Linked DNA regions of Homo sapiens: regions 2 and 3 are each linked to region 1. Evidence: fine-mapped expression QTL. A gene starts in region 1. Each other region holds a variant in brackets. All regions are shown on one strand. Distances are from middle to middle. Region 1 holds the start of NINL (ninein like). Region 2 overlaps ZNF337-AS1 (ZNF337 antisense RNA 1). Region 3 has its middle 85 kb from the start of MIR663AHG.

What was found. PIP is the estimated chance that this variant, and not a neighbour inherited with it, causes the effect.
Region 2: its variant is the best candidate, but not a certain one, in a credible set for the expression of NINL in tibial nerve (GTEx, PIP 0.65).
Region 3: its variant is the best candidate, but not a certain one, in a credible set for the expression of NINL in whole blood (TOPMed, PIP 0.82).

The regions. Positions count from the first base shown.
Region 1 is chr20:25,583,275-25,588,503 of GRCh38, reverse strand. It overlaps NINL (ninein like), which reads left to right and starts at 2,973. Exons shown (of 24, transcript NM_025176.6): 1 at 2,973-3,049. RefSeq lists a silencer at 2,909-3,038.
Region 2 is chr20:25,661,844-25,667,072 of GRCh38, reverse strand. All of the region lies in intron 2 of ZNF337-AS1 (ZNF337 antisense RNA 1), which reads right to left. Among named protein-coding and RNA genes, the nearest start is that of ZNF337, 32 kb to the left of the region's middle. The variant A/G (reference allele first, on the strand shown) is at 2,050.
Region 3 is chr20:26,291,338-26,296,566 of GRCh38, reverse strand. No RefSeq gene overlaps it. Among named protein-coding and RNA genes, the nearest start is that of MIR663AHG, 85 kb to the right of the region's middle. The variant C/T (reference allele first, on the strand shown) is at 3,212.

The DNA.
Region 1 (5,229 bases):
ACTGTTGTGCGGTGTGAGAGTGGAGAGTTTTCTCTACACGACAATAAAATTGGAATGTCTGGAGGTAGGATGCAGGCACTGGTGTTTTTAATTTTTAAGTAGTCAAAGTGGAGAACTCCTAGTCTTCCCACTTCTCTCTGATGAAGAACCACTACATTAACTCATTTAAATTCGGTATGCTCAACTGGGCACGGTGCCTCATGCCTGCAATCTCAGTACTTTGGGGGGCCAAAGTGGGAGGATCATTTTAGCCCAGGAGTTCAAGACCAGCCTGGGCAACATAGACCCCATCTCTACAAAAAATTAGTAAGTTAGCCAGGTGTGGGGGTGCATCTGTAATGCAGCTATTTGGGAGGCTGAGGTGGGAGGATCACTTGAGCCCAGGAGATCAAGGCTGCAGTGAGCTGTGATCACACCACCACACTCCAGCCTGGGTAACAGACTGAGATCCTGTCTCAAGAAATAAAATAACAAATAAATTCAGTACACTCCTGTGCAATGGGTAATTTTTACATTTCTATTTTGCAAATGAAACTGAGATCACAGATGTTACATGACTGGGTGATCCACAGTCAAACAGCTAGTAAGTGGCATGATTCACATCTTCTGACTCCAAATTCATTCTCCAGCCAGTGAGTGGGAGCCCGTGCAGAGCATCAGGAGCACTGAAGAGAAGACATTCTTCACAATGGCAGCCCCCATGGCTCTGAGCACCCCTGGGAATCCAGGGTTATAAACTGGAGTCATCGGGGTCTTGGCTGCGCATCCCACAGGGACCACCTTTGCACGGTGTGTCCTGCCATTGTGCCCCACACTGGTTGGGACAGGTCATGGGCATAGCAAAAGGTATCTGGGCACATTCAGCAGGTCAGAGAAACCTCCCAGCCTAGAACACACTATGAGCGTCTCTGAACCACTCCCTGTGTTTGCCTTTTGCTCTGCATGGGGTTTAGCACTTGCAGGCACTTGGAAATTTCACTCGCCCTTGGAAACTCCGTTCCCCCATAGCCTGTCTTTCATCCTGCTTCCTTCTCACCCCATTTTGCCTCTGATCCTCACATCCTCTAAAGTGGAGTTCCTACAAAGTATATGCACCTTTCTCATGCTACAGTGTACTGTAGCTCATTTTGTAATTCTGATATAACTCTCTGACATTTTTGTATATTTATGTTTTTATTTTTATTTTTTGGAGACAGAGTCTTGCTCTGTCGCCCAAGCTGGAGTCTAGTGGCAAGATCTCAGCTCACTGCAACCTCCGACTCCTGGGTTCATGCAATTCTTGTGCCTCAGCCTCACGAGTAGCTGGGACTACAGGCGCGCGTTAACCACAACTGGCTAATTTTTTTGTGTTTCAGTAGACACTGGGTTTCACCATGTTGGCCACGCTGGTCTCGAACTCCTGTCCTCAGGCAATCTGCCCACAGTGGCCTCCCAAACTACTGGGATTACAGGCATGAGTCACCGTGCCTGGCTGTATTTACTTTTTTTTTTCTTTTTTTGAAATGGAGTCTCACTCTGTCGCCCAAGCTGGAGTGCAGTGGCTTGATAACCACAACCTCCGCCTCCCAGATTCAAGCGATTCTCCTGTCTCAGCCTCCTGAGTAGCTGGGATTACAGGCATATGCCATCACGCCCGGCTAATTTTGTATTTTTAGTAGAGACGGGGTTTCTCCATGTTGGTCAGGCTGGTCTTGAACTCCCGACCTCAGGTGATCCGCCTGCCTCAGCCCCCCAAAGTGCTGGGATGACAGGCATGAGCCACTATGCCCGGCCGGGTATTTACGTTTTTAAATTGTTTTCTGTGTAAACTCTATAAGGGCCAGGGATTTTTTGCACCGCTGTTGGCAGCCCCTAGGACAATGCCTGGCCCTAGTAGGTGTTCGATAAATATATACAGGTTGAATATCCCTTAACCGAGATGCTTGGCACCAGAAGCATTTAGGATTTCAGATTTTGGAATATTTGCATTATACCAATTGAACACCCCTAATCTGAAAATCCAAAATTAGAAATGCTCCAATGAGGCCAGGTGCGGTGGCTCATGCCAGTAATCCCAGCACTATGGGAGGCCAAGGTGGGAGGATCACTTGAGGCCAGAAATTCCAGACCAGCCTGGGCAACATGGTGAAGCCTCCTCTCTTAAAAAAATACAGGCCGGGCGCGGTGGCTCACGCCTGTAATCCCAGCACTTTGGGAGGCCGAGGCGGTGGATCCATCCCTTGAGCCTAGGAGTTCGAGACCAGCCTGGGCAACACAGTGAGACTCTGTGCTAAAAATACAAAAATTAGCGGACATGGTGGCAGATGCCTGCAGTCCCAGCTACTGGGGGTTGGGACGCTGAGGCGGGAGGATCGCCATAGCCGGGAAAGTCGAGGCTGTAGTGAGCCATGACCGCGCCACTGCATCCCAGGCTGGGCAGCAGAAGTGACAGCCTTTCTCAAAAGAAAAGAAAGTTAAAAGAAGAAAAAAGAAGTGCTCCAATGTGCATTTCCTTTGAGCATCAGGTCAGCGCTCAAAAACTTTCAGATTTTGAAGCATTTCGGATTTCAGATGTTTGGATTAGGGATGCTCAACCCGTATTGATTTAATATGCGGTGGAAACGTGACGACCTAGGTTTTAAGTCGCGGTTTCCTCAGTGGTGGGTTTGGGGTATTACCCCTGCCTGGCCGGCCTCCGGGCTTGTTTCCAGAAGATGCTACCCCGAGAGCTGCGAACCGCCAAGCTCCGCAGCGCGCAGGGCTCCGACAGGGACCAGCGAGGTCAGCTCCAAGGGTCACCCCAGGCTCCAAACTGGCCAGAGCCGCCCTGAGATTTGCGGAGGCCGCCTTGCCCCCACCCCGCCCCGCAATCCCGGACCCGACCCGCCCCCTCTCCCGTTCGCTCGCCCCGCCCCCTGTTCGCCCACTGCGCCGGGACACCGAGGGGGCGGTGCCTCGAGGCCGGGAGGAGTGTTGCGTCGCGGCCTCCAGACACAAAGAGCGGCCGGCGGTACGGGGGTGGTGCCGCGCTCCTGGCCCCGCGCGGGCGGACGGCGGAGGCGCCTCCCAGGTGAGCCGGCCCGGGCGTCCGGCGGGACATTCAGGCGGCTGGTGGGGTCGAGAGTCCGGGGCCGCCCCTGCGTCGCGACCCGCGCCTTAGTCACCAGACCCGGCTCCGGGAGCGCGGCCTCGGGTGCTCCTCGCGGTGCGGGGCGCAGACTCGGCGCATCTGCTGTGGTGCCTGCTCTTCCGGTCGCCCTCGAGGGCGGGGCGGGGGTCACGCCCTAAAATACAGCGCCCGCTGGGCCGAACGCTTGAAAACCCGGTTTCCCGACGGCGGCGGCGCGGGCGCCGTGCGAACGAGGGCCCGGGTCCAGCACAGCCCCAAGGCTCGGCCTGAGGCGGGCGGCCTTGGCCGGGGCCCCCCGTGGTAATGAGCTACGCGGTGCCCGCCGCCTGCCCAGCGCGGGCCGTTTCTCCTGACGCCGCCGGCGTCTGGTCGAGGCCCAGGATTCCCTCCTGCCAGTGTGGCTGCGGCCCCCCACGGAGCGGGACCCGCGTTCGTGGCGCTTGGGACGGTTGATTGAAAGGGTGTAGAAGTCTGTTGCGAATTTTATCTGTTGTACTCGTTTTGCAGATTCGCCCCTTTCCTCCCGCCTGTGCGCGCAGTCACACACACCATGTGGGAGTCTCTGATCGCGTTGGGTTCATAATCATCGATCGTGCCTGGGTACTGATGCCCCATTGTTAGGAGCTCTGTGTGGGGCTGTATGTTTGCACAGGACTCACGTGAGGAAGGGTGGCCACGTTTCTTTCTGCTCTGTGAGACTTAGGCCAAGCCCTGGAACTAGGGAGGAGGTTCAGGAAGAGACCCATGAAGCTGGCGGGGCCTTGGAGAAGGGCAAGTGATTTTCAAGGTCAGTAGTAAGAGGGGTCATGAGTAATGGTAAGTTTCTTAGCGGCCTTTGCTGTGACTTCTAGGTTTTTCACACTGGACTTAAAATACTTTTAAAAGCAGAGTTTTTGTTCTTCTTGTTGTTGTTCTTGTTGTTGTTGCTGTTTTTGAAACGAAGTTTCACTCTTGTTGCCCAGGCTGGAGTGCAATGGCGCCATCTCGGCTCACTGCAACCTCTGCCTCCCGGATTCAAGCGATTCTCCTGCCTCAGCCTCCCGAGTAGCTGGGATTACACGCCCAGCTAATTTTTTGTGTTTTTAGTGGAGATGGGGGTTTCACCATGTTGGCCAGGCTGGTCTCGAACTTCTGACCTTCAGGTGATCCAGCTGCCTCGGCCTCCCAAAGTTCTGGGATTACAGGCGTGAGCCACTGCACCCGGCCAAGTTTTTGTTTTGTTTTGTTTTTGTTTTTTAATTTTATTTTACTTTAAGTTCTGGGATACATGTGCAGAACGTTCTGGTTTGTTACATGGGTATACATGTGCCATGATGGTTTGCTGCACCTATCAACCCGTCATCTAGATTTTAAGCCCCACATACATTAGGTATTTGTCCTAATGCTCTCCCTCCTCTTGCCCCCCACCCGCCCCGACAGGTCCCGATGTGTGAGGTGTGTGATGTTCCCCTCCCTGTGTCCATGTGTTCTCATTGTCAACTCCCACTTATGAGTGAGAACATGCGGTGTTTGGTTTTCTGTTCTTGTGTTAGTTTGCTGAGAATGATGGCTTCCCACTTTATGCATGTCCCTGCAAAGGACATGAACTCATTCTTTTTTATGGCTACGTAGTATTCCATGGTGTATCTGTACCACATTTTCTTTATTCAGTCTATCCGTGATGGGCATTTGGGTTGGTTCCAAGTCTTTGCTATTGTAAATAGTGCTGCAATAAACATACACGTTTATGTGTCTTTATAGTAGAATGATTTATAGTCCTTTGGGTATATACCCAGTAATGGGATCACCGGGTCAAATGTTATTTCTGGTTCTAGATCCTTGAGGAATCGCCACACTGTCTTCCACAATGGTTGAACTAATTTACACTCCCACCAACAGTGTAAAAGCGTTCCTATTCCTCCACAGCCTCTCCAGCATCTGTTGTTTCCTTGCTTTTTAATAATTACCATTCTAACTGATGTGAGATGGTATCTCATTGTGGTTTTGATTTGCATTTCTCTAATGACCAGTGATGATGAGCTTTTTTTTTAATATATGTTGTTGGCTGCATAAATGTCTTCTTTTGAGAAGTGTCTGTTCATTTCCTTTGGCCACTTTTTGATGGGGTTGTTTTTTTCTTG
Region 2 (5,229 bases), 79 kb before region 1:
ACTAGCAAACTGAACCTAGCAACACATCAAAAAGATAATATACCATGATCAATGGAATCTACCTCAGGTATGCAAAGGAGGTTGAACATATGCAAATCAATAAATGTGATATATCACATCAACAGATTGAAAGACAAAAACTATGATCCTCTCAATAGATGCAGGAAAAGCATTTTATATAAGTTAACATCCCATCCTGATAAAAACTGTCAACAAATTAGGCATAGAAAAAACATACCTCAACATAATATAAGCCACATATTACAAACCCACAGCTAACATCATAATGAATAGGGGAAAGCTGAAAGCCTTTCCTCCAAGAACTGAAACATGAATCAAATGCCTACTTCCACCTCTCTTATTAACATAGTAGTGGAAGTCTTAGAATCAGGCAAGATAAAGAAATAGGCATCCAAATTGGAAAACAGAAAGGCAAATTATCCCTCTTTACAGACAAGATGATCTTAAATATAGAAAATCCTAAAGACTTCACCAAAAAACTTAGAACAAACAAATTCAGTAAAGTTGCAGGAGACAAAAATCAACATACTAAAATCAGTAGCATTTCTATACACTAATAATGAACTAGTTGAAAAATCAAAAAAGCAATCCCAACTATAGTAGCTACAAAAAAATTAAATACCTAGGAAAAAATTTAACAAAGAGATAAAAGGCCTAGGCAATGAAAACCAAAAAATACTGATGAAAAAAATTGATGAGGACACAAACAGAAAGACATGCCACGCTTAAGGAGCAAAAGAATTAATGTTGTTAAGATGACCATACTACCCAGAGCAATCTACAAATTTAATGCAATCCTTATCAAACTACCAATGACATTCTTCACAAAAATAGAAAAAATACTCCTAAAGTTTGTAAGGAACCACAAAAAATCTCAAAATAGCCAAAGCAATGTAAGCATAAAGAACAAAGTGGGAGGCATCCTTTCTATATATACTAAACCAATGAAGAGAATAAATAGCACAGAAAAACATTCATGTATTTACAGCCAACTGATTTTTAACAGTCACCAGGAATATACATTGGGTAAAGGACACTGTCTAATAAATGGTACTAGGAAAACTGGACAGCCATATGCAGAAGAATAAAACTATACCCCTATCTTTTACCATATGCAAAAAAATCTGCTAAAAACAGATTAAAGACTTAGTGTAGGACCTGAAATCATAAAACTGCTAGAAGCAAACATAGGGAAAATGCTTCAGGAATTGGTCTAGGCTAAGATTTTGTGACGGAGACCTCAAAATCACAGCCAACAAAACCAAAAATTGACAAATGGGATTATATGAAACTAGAAAGCTTCTGCATAGCAAGTAAAACAACAGAGTGAAGAGACAACATATAGAATAGAAGAAAATATTTGCAAACTATTCATCTTGTAAGGGACTAATATACAGAATATACAAGGAACTCAAACAACTCGACACAAAACCCAAATAATCTAATTAAAAAGTGGCAAGGGATCTGAATAGGCATGTCTCAAAAGAAGACAGACATACAAATAGGCAACAAGTATATGGAAAAATGCTCAACCTCACTAATCATCAGGGAAATGCAAGTTACAATGAGAGATCCCCTTACCCCAGTTAGGATGGGTATTATCAAAAAAGACAAAAAAAAATAATGGCAAGATGTGGAGAAAAGGCAATTCTTATACACTGCTGCTGGGAATGTAAATTAGTACAGCCATTATGGAAAATGATATGGAGGTTCTTTTTAAAACTACAAATTGAACTGCCATACAATGAAGCAATCTTAAAACTTGGTATTTATCCAAAGGAAAGGAAATCAGGCAGGGTGTGGTGGCTCATGCCTATAATCCCAGCACTTTGGGAGGCTGAGGCTGGTGGAACACTTGAGGTCAAGAGTTCGAGACCAGCCTGGCCAACATGGTGAAACCCTGTCTCTACTAAAAATATAAAAATTAGCCAGATGTGGTGGTGCACACCTGTAATCCCAGCTACTTGGGAGACTGAGGCAGGAAAATCATTTGAACCTGGGAGGCAGAGGTTGCAGTGAGCCAAGACC[A/G]CGCCACTGCACTCCAGCCTGAGTGACAGAACGAGACTCCTCAAAAAAAAAAAAAAAAAAGGAAATCAGTATACCAAAGGAATACATGCACCCTGATGTTTATTGTAGTAGCACTGTTCACAATAGCCAAAACATGGAATCAACCTAAGTATCCATCAGTGGATGAATGATAAATAAAATGTCCTATATATACACAGTGGAATATTATTCAGCCATAAAAACATAATTAAATCCTGTTATTCTACACCAAAATGGATGGAACTGGAGGTCATTACGTTAAGTGAAATAAGCCAAGCACAGAAACACAAACATCACATATTCATATGTGGGAGACAAGAAAGTTGATCTCATAGAGGTAGAAAGTAAAACAATGGTTACCACAGATTGGGAACAGGACAGGCCTAGGGGAATGAAAAGGCATTGGTTAATGGGTAGGAACATAGAGTTAGATGGAAGGAATATGTTCTAGTGTTTGATAGCACAGTAGGATGGCTATAGTTAACACCAATATATTGTATATGTCATAATAGCTAAAAGAGAAGATTTGAAATGTTCCCAACACAAAAACAGTAAACGTTTGAGGTGATGGATAGACTAAGTACTCTGATTTAATCATTTCATATCGTATGTATACATTCAAATATCACATGTACTTCATAAATATGTGTCGTTATTATGTATCAATAAAACTTTTAAAGGAAACTATTATGCTAAGCAAAGAAACCAGACATAAAATACCTCAAATTGTATGAGTTTACTTATTAAATTTCCAGAAAGGCAAATCTTAAAAATAGAAAGTATATTAGTTGTTGCCTAGGGGTGGGAAGGTTAGATGACTACAAAGTGAACTTTTGGGAGTGAAGGAAGTGCTCTAAACTAAATTATGGTGATTATCACACAACTGTATAAACTAAAACTCATCAAACTGAATACTTTCCATGGTTAAATTTCAAAGTATGTAAATTATACCTCAATAAAATGTTCTTTTTTAAAAAGGATTACACCGGGCACAGTGGCTCATGCCTGTAATCCCAGGACTTTGGGAGGCCAATGCGGGCAGATCACTTGACCTCAGGAGTTCGAGACTAGCCTGGCCAACATGGCGAAACCCTATCTCTACTAAAAATACAAAAATTAGCTGGGCATGGTGGCGTGCGCCTATAGTTCTAGCTACTTGGGAGGCTGAGGTATGAGAATCACTTGAACCTGGAAGGCGGAGGTTGCAGTGAGCCAAGATGGTGCCACTGCACTCCAGCCTGGATGACAAAGCGAGACCCTGTCTCAAAGTAATTAATTAATTAATTAATTAATTAAATTTAATTTAATTTAAAAGGATTATACTCCATGACCAAGTGGGACTTATTCCTGGAATGCAAGGATAATTGAGTATATAAAAATCAATCAATGTAATACACTGCATTAACAAATTGAAGGGAGAAAACCACATGAACATCTCCATTGATGCAAGAAAATTATTTGACAAAATTCAACACCTCTTTATGATTAAAACAAAATTCAACAAACTAGGAATAAAAGGAATAAAATGTCATGGGAAGGCAGTTTCTGTAAAGGAAACATAATAAAGGCCATATATAAAAACCCACAGCTAACATCATTCTTAATGGTGAAAGACAAAAGTTTTTCCTCTAACAGCAGGAACAAGGCAGGGATGTCCACTTTTATCACTTCTATTCAACATAGCACTGGAATTTCTAGCCAGAGCAATTAGGCAAGAAAAAGAAAAGGTATCCAATTTTGAAAGGAAGAAAAATCATCTGTTTGTAATTATTATCTTACGTGTAGAAGATTCCACACAAAAAACTGTTAGAACTAATAAATAAATTCAACAAAGTTGCAAAATACAAATACAAAAAAAAAAGTGGCCAGGCGCGGTGGCTCACGCCTGTAATCCCAGCACTTCGGGACGCCGAAGTGGGCGGATCACGAGGTCAGGAGATTGAGACCATCCTGGCTAACACGGTGAAACCCCCTCTCTACTAAAAATACAAAAAATTAGCCAGGCGTGTTGGCGGGCGCCTGTAGTCCCAGCTACTGGGGAGGCTGAGCCAGGAGAATGGCGTGAACCCAGGAGGCGGAGCTTGCAGTGAGCCGAGATTGCACCACTGCACTCCAGCCTGGGAGACAGAGCGGGGCGACGGAGTGAGACTCCGTCTCAAAGAAAAAAAGAGGTGACCTTGAATTGGCCAACCTAAGTCTTCTTCAGTGTCTGAATAGAGCTGGAAATAGAAATTATGTTCTCATCTAAAAAATTTTAAAATTACATTGTTCAGGCACCAAATTTTGGCAATTCCCAATCTAATTTGCATTATCTATGCAAAGACATCTAAACAGATTGTCATTGAATAATTTAAATATCCAGAGGCACAAATTAGTATTTCCCTGCTTCATTCCTATCCCAAGGAAATACCTTCACCATGGCAAAACTTTCTCCAATAAATTTGCCCTGATGATGAAATTCATTTGCTTCTGCAAACTGATCAAATATTTATCTAGACACTCACACACACCTCCCACCCCACCCTACTTCTCTCTCTCTCATTCACTCACAATTTGGCTTACACTTTTTAAACTTTTTTATTTTTTTGAGACAGGGTCTTGCTCTGTCACCCAGGCTGGAGTGCAGTGCTGCAGTCATGGCTCATGCAGCCTTGACCTCCTAAACTCAGGTGATCCTCCCTCCTCAGCCTCCCAAGTAGCTGGGACTACAGGCACATGCCACCATGCCTGGCTAATTTTTGCATTTTTTGTAGAGACTAGGGTCTCCCTATGTTGCCCAGGCTGGTCTCAAACTCCTGGGCTCAAGTGATCCTCCCACCTCAGCCTCCCAAAGTGTTAGGATTACAGGCATGACCACCGTGCTATAAGAGAAAATTTTACTATTTTTAATTGGTTAAAAAAATATATCTAAGACATAGCCTTTACATTTATTTTGATGTTTTAAAAATTGCAGGCTGGATGCAATAGCTCATGCCTGTAATCCCAGCTGAGGCAGGAGGATTGCTTGAGCCTAGGAATTCAAGACCAGCCTGGGCAACATAGCAAAACCTCATCTCTACAAAAAAACATATATAAAAATTAGCTGGGCGTGGTGGTGCATGCCTGTAGTCCCAGCTACTTGGGAGGCTGAAGTGAGAGGATCGCTTGAGCCCAAGAGGTTGA
Region 3 (5,229 bases), 710 kb before region 1:
AGTGTTCCAAATATCCACTTGCAAATTCTACAAAAAGAGTGTTTCAAAACTGCTGTATGAAAAGGAATGTTCAACTGTGTGAGTTGATAGCAAACGTCACAAACAAGTTTCTGAGAATGCTTCTGTGTAGTTCTTATGTGAAGAGAATTCCTTTTTCACCATTGGCTTCAAAGCGCTCCAAATGTCCATTTGCAGATTCTACAAAAAGTGTATTTCAAAACTGCTCTATCAGAAGAAAGGTTCAACTGGGTGAGTTGAGTGCACACATGACAAAGTAGTTTCTGAGAATGCTTCTGTCTAGTTTTTGGGAAGATATCCCGTTTGCAACGAAGGCCTCAAAATGTTCCAAAATATCCACTTGCAAATTCTACAAAAAGAGTGTTTCAAAAGTGCTCTAAGAAAAGGAATGTTCAACTCTGTGAGTTTAAAGCAAACAACAGAAATAAGTTTCTTAGAATGCTTCTGTGCAGTTTTTATGTGAAGATATATAGTTTTTCACCATAGGCCTCAAAGCTCTTCAAATGTCCATTTGCAGATACTTCAAAAATATTGTTTCAAAACTGCTCTATTAAAAGAAATGATCAACTCTGTGAGTTGAATGCACACATCACAAAGAAGTTTCTCAGAATGCTTCGGTCTAGTTTTTATGTGAAGATATTTGCTTTCTCACCATAGACCTCAAAGCGCAACAAATGTCCACTTGCAGATTCTACAAAAAGAGTGTTTCAAAACTACTCTAACTAAAGTCCAACTCTGTGTGTTGCATGCACACATCACTAGGCAGTTTCTGAGAATGCTTCTGTCTAGTTTCTAAGTGAAGATATTCCTGTTTCCAACGAAGGCCTCAGAGAGATCCAAATATCCACTTGCAGATTCTACAAGTGGAGTGTTTCAAAACTGCTCTATCTAAAGAATGGTTCAACTCTCTGAGTTGAAAGCACTCATCACAAAGAACTTTCTGAGAATGCTTCTGTCTAGTTTTTATGTGAAGATATTCCCGTTTAGGCTACAAAAATCTCCAAATATCCATAAGCAGATTCTACAAAAAGAGTGTTTCAAAACTGCTCTATCAAAAGAAAGGTTCAACTGGGTTAGTTGAGTGCATACATCACAAAGAAGTTTCTGAGAATGCTTCTGTATAGTTTTTGTGAAGATATCGCTTTTGCAACGAAGGCCTCAAAGTGTTCCAAATATCCACTTGGAAATATCACAAAAAGAGTGTTTCACAACTGCTCTATTAAAAGGAATGTTCAACTCTGTGAGTTGAAAGCAAACATCACAAAGTATTTTCTGAGAAGGCTTCTTTGTAGTTTTTATGTGAAGATACATCCTTCTTCACCACAGGCCTCAAAGCGCTCAAAATGTCCACACGCAGATTCTACATAAAGAGTGTATGAAAACTGCTCTTTCAAAAGAAAGGTTCAACTCTGTGAGTTGAATGCCCACATCACAAAGAATTTTCTGAGAATGCTCCTGTATTGTTTTTATGTGAAGATATTTCTTTTTTCCCCATACGCCTCAAAGCGCTACAAATGTCCACTTGCAGATGCTACAAAAAGAGTGTTTCAAAACTGCTATATCAAAAGAAATGTTCAGCCGTGTGAGTTGAATGCACACATCACAAAGAAGTTTCTGAGAATGCTTCTGTCTAGTTTTTGTGAAATATCCCGTTTCCATCAAAGGCCTCAAAGTGGTCCAAATATCCACTTGCAAACCCTACAAAAAGAGTGTTTCAAAAGTGCTCTAAGAATAGGAATGTTCAACTCTATTAGTTGAAAGCAATCAACACAAAGATGTTTCTGAGAATGCTTCTGTGTAGTTTTTATGTGAAGATATTTCGTTTTTCACCATAGGCCTCAAAGCCCTCCAAATGTCCAGTTGCAGATACTTCAAAAAGATTGTTTCAAAACTGCTCTATCAAAAGAAATGTTCAACTCCGTGAGTTCAATGCACACATCACAAAGAAGTTTCTGAGAATGCTTCTGTCCAGTTTTCATGTGAAGATATTTGCTTTTTCACCATAGGCCTCAAAGCGCTACAAATGTCCACTTGCAGATTCTACAAAAACAGTGTTTCAAAGCTGCTCTATCAAAAGAAAGGTTCAACTATGTGAGTTGAATGCATGCATCACAAAGCAGTTACTGAGAATGTTTCTGTCTAGTTTTTATGTGAAGAAATTCCCGTTTCTAACAAAGTCCTAAAAGAAATCCAAATAACCACTAGCAGATCCTACAAAAGGAGTGTTTCAAAACTGCTCTATCGAAAGAAAGGTTCGATTCTGTGAGTTGAATTCACACATCATAAAGTACTTTCTGAGAATGCTTCTGTATAGTTTTTATGTGAAGATATTCCCGTTTCCAACGAAGGCCTGAAAAATCTCCAAATATCTACTAGCAGATTCTGCAAAAGGAGTGCTTCAAAACTGCTCTATCAAAAGAAAGCTTCAACTCTGTTAGTTGAATGCACACATCACAAAAAGTTCCTGTGAATGTTTCTGTTTAGTTTTTATGTGAGGATATTCCCTTTATCACCATAAGCCTCAAATCGCTCAAATATACACATGCAGATACTACAAAAAGAGTGTTTCAAATCTGCTCTCTCAAAAGGAAAGTTTAACTCCGTGAGTTGAATGCACACATCACAAAGAAGTTTCTGAGAATGATTCTGTCAAGTTTTTATGTGAAGATATTTCTTCTTCCACAGTAGGCCTCAAAGCGCTCCAAATGAACAATTACAGATGCTACAAAAAGAGTTTTTCAAAACTGCTCTATCAAAAGAAAGTTTCAACTCTGTGAGTGGAATGCACGCATCACAAAGAAGTTTGTGAGCAAGCTTCTGTCTAGTTTTATGTAAAGATATTTGCTTTTTCACCACAGGCTTCAAAGCGCTCCAAATGTCCACTTGCGGATTGTCCAAAAAGAGTGTTTCAAAACTGCTCTAACAAAAGAAAGGTTCAACTCTGTGAGTTGAATGCACACATCCAAAGAAGTTTCTGAAAATGCTTCTGTGAAGTTTTTATGTGAAGATATTTCCTTTTTCACCGTAGACCTCAGAGAGATCTAAATGTCCACTTGCAAATTCTACAAAAAGAGAGTTTTAAAAGTGCTCTATCAAAAGAAAAAGTTGAATGCACACATCACAAAGAAGTTTCTGAGAATGCTTCTGTCTAGTTTTTGTGAAGAGAATGCTTTTGTCTAGTTTCCAATGAAGG[C/T]CTAAAAGCGATCCAAATATCCTCTTGCAAATTCTACAAAAAGAGTGTTTCAAAACTGCTCTATGAAAAGGAATGTTCAACTCTGTGAGTTGAAAGCAAACAACACAAAGAAGTTTCTGAGAATGCTTCTGGGTAGTTTTTATGTGAAGATATTTCCTTTTTCACCATAGGCCTCAAAGCACTCCAAATGTCCAGTTGTAGATTCTACAAAAAGAGTGTTTCAAAACTTCTCAATCAAAAGAAATGTTCAACTCTGTGAGGTGGGTACACACATCAAAAAGAAGTTTCTGAGAATGCTTCTGTCTAGTTTTTATGTGAAGATATTTCTTTTTTCAACAAAGGCCTCAGAGCGCTCCAAATGTCCACTGGCACATACTAAAAAAAAAAAGTGTTTCAAAACTGCTCTATGAAAAGGAATGTTCAACTCTGTGAGTTGAATGCATACATCACAAAGATGTTTCTGAGAATGCTTCTGTCTAGTTTTTATGTGAAGATATTCCAGTTTCCAACGAAGGCCACAAAGCTCTTCAAATGTCCACTTGCAGATTCCATAAAAAAAGAGTTTCAAAACTGTTCTATCAAAAGAAAGGTTCACCTCTGCGAGTTGAGTGCACACATCATAAAGAAGTTTCTGAGAATGCTTCTGTCTAGTTTTTATGTGAAGATATTTCCTTTTTCACCATAGGCCTCCAAGTGCTCCAAATGTCCTCTTGCAGATTCTACAAAAAGAGTGTTTCAAAACTGCTCTATGAAAAGTAATATTCAACTCTGAGAGTTGAATGCACACATCACAAAGAAGTTTCTGAGAATGCTTCTGTCTAGCTTTTAGGTAAAGATATTTCCTTTTTCACTTTAGGCCTCAAAGCACTCCAAAATCCAGTTGCAGATGCCACAAAAAGAGTGTTTCTAAACTGCTCTATAAAAAAAAAGAGTTGAATGCACAAATCACAAAGAAGTTTCTGGGAATTCTTTTGTCTAGTTTTTGTGAAGATATCCCGTTTCCAAAGAAGGCCTCAAAGTGTTCCAAATATCCACTTGCAAATTCTACTAAAAGGTTGTTTCAAAACTGCTCTATGAAAAGGAATGTTCAACTCTGTGAGTGGAAAGCAAACATCTCAAAGAAGTTTCTGAGAATGCTTCTTTGTAGTTTTTATGTGAAGATATTTCCTTTTTCTCCATGGGCCTCAAAGCGCTCCAAATGTCCACTTGCATATTCCATAAAAAGAGTGTTTCTAAGCTCCTCTATCAAAAGAACGGTTCAACTCTGTAAGTTGAGTTCACATATCGCAAAGAATTTTCTGAGAATGCTTCTGTCCAGTTTTTGTGAAGATATCAGATTTCCAAAGAAGGCCTCAAAGCGTTCCAAATATCCACTTGCAAATTCTACAAAAAGAGTGTTTCAAAACTGCTCTATGAAAAGGAATGTTCTACTCTGTGAGTTGAAAGCAAACATCTCAAAGAAGTTTCTGAGAATGATTCTGTGTAGTATTATATGAACATATTTTCTTTTTCACCACAGGCCTCAAAGCGCTCCAAAGGTCCACTTGCAGATTCTACAAGAGTGTTCCATTACTGCTCTATGAAAAGAGAGGTTCAACTCTGTGAGTTGAATGCACACATCACAATGAAGTTTCTGAGAATTCTTCTGTCTAGTTTTTTGTGAAGACATTTCCTTTTTCACCATAGGCCTAAAAGCGCTACAAATGTCCACTTGCAGATTCTACAAAAAGAGTGTTTCAAATCTGCTCTATAAAAAGAAAGGTACAATTCTGTGAGTTGAATGCACACATCACAAAGAAATTTCTGGAAATGCTTTTGTCTAGTTTTTGTGAAGATATCCCGTTTCCAACGAAGGCCTCATATCGGTCCAAATATCCACTTGCAAATTCTACAAAAAGAGTTTTTCAAAACTGCTCTATGAAAAGGAAAGTTAAACTCTGTGAGGTGAAAGCAAATATCACAAAGAATTTTCTGAGAATGCTTCTGTGTAGTTTTTATGTGAAGATATTTCTTTTTTC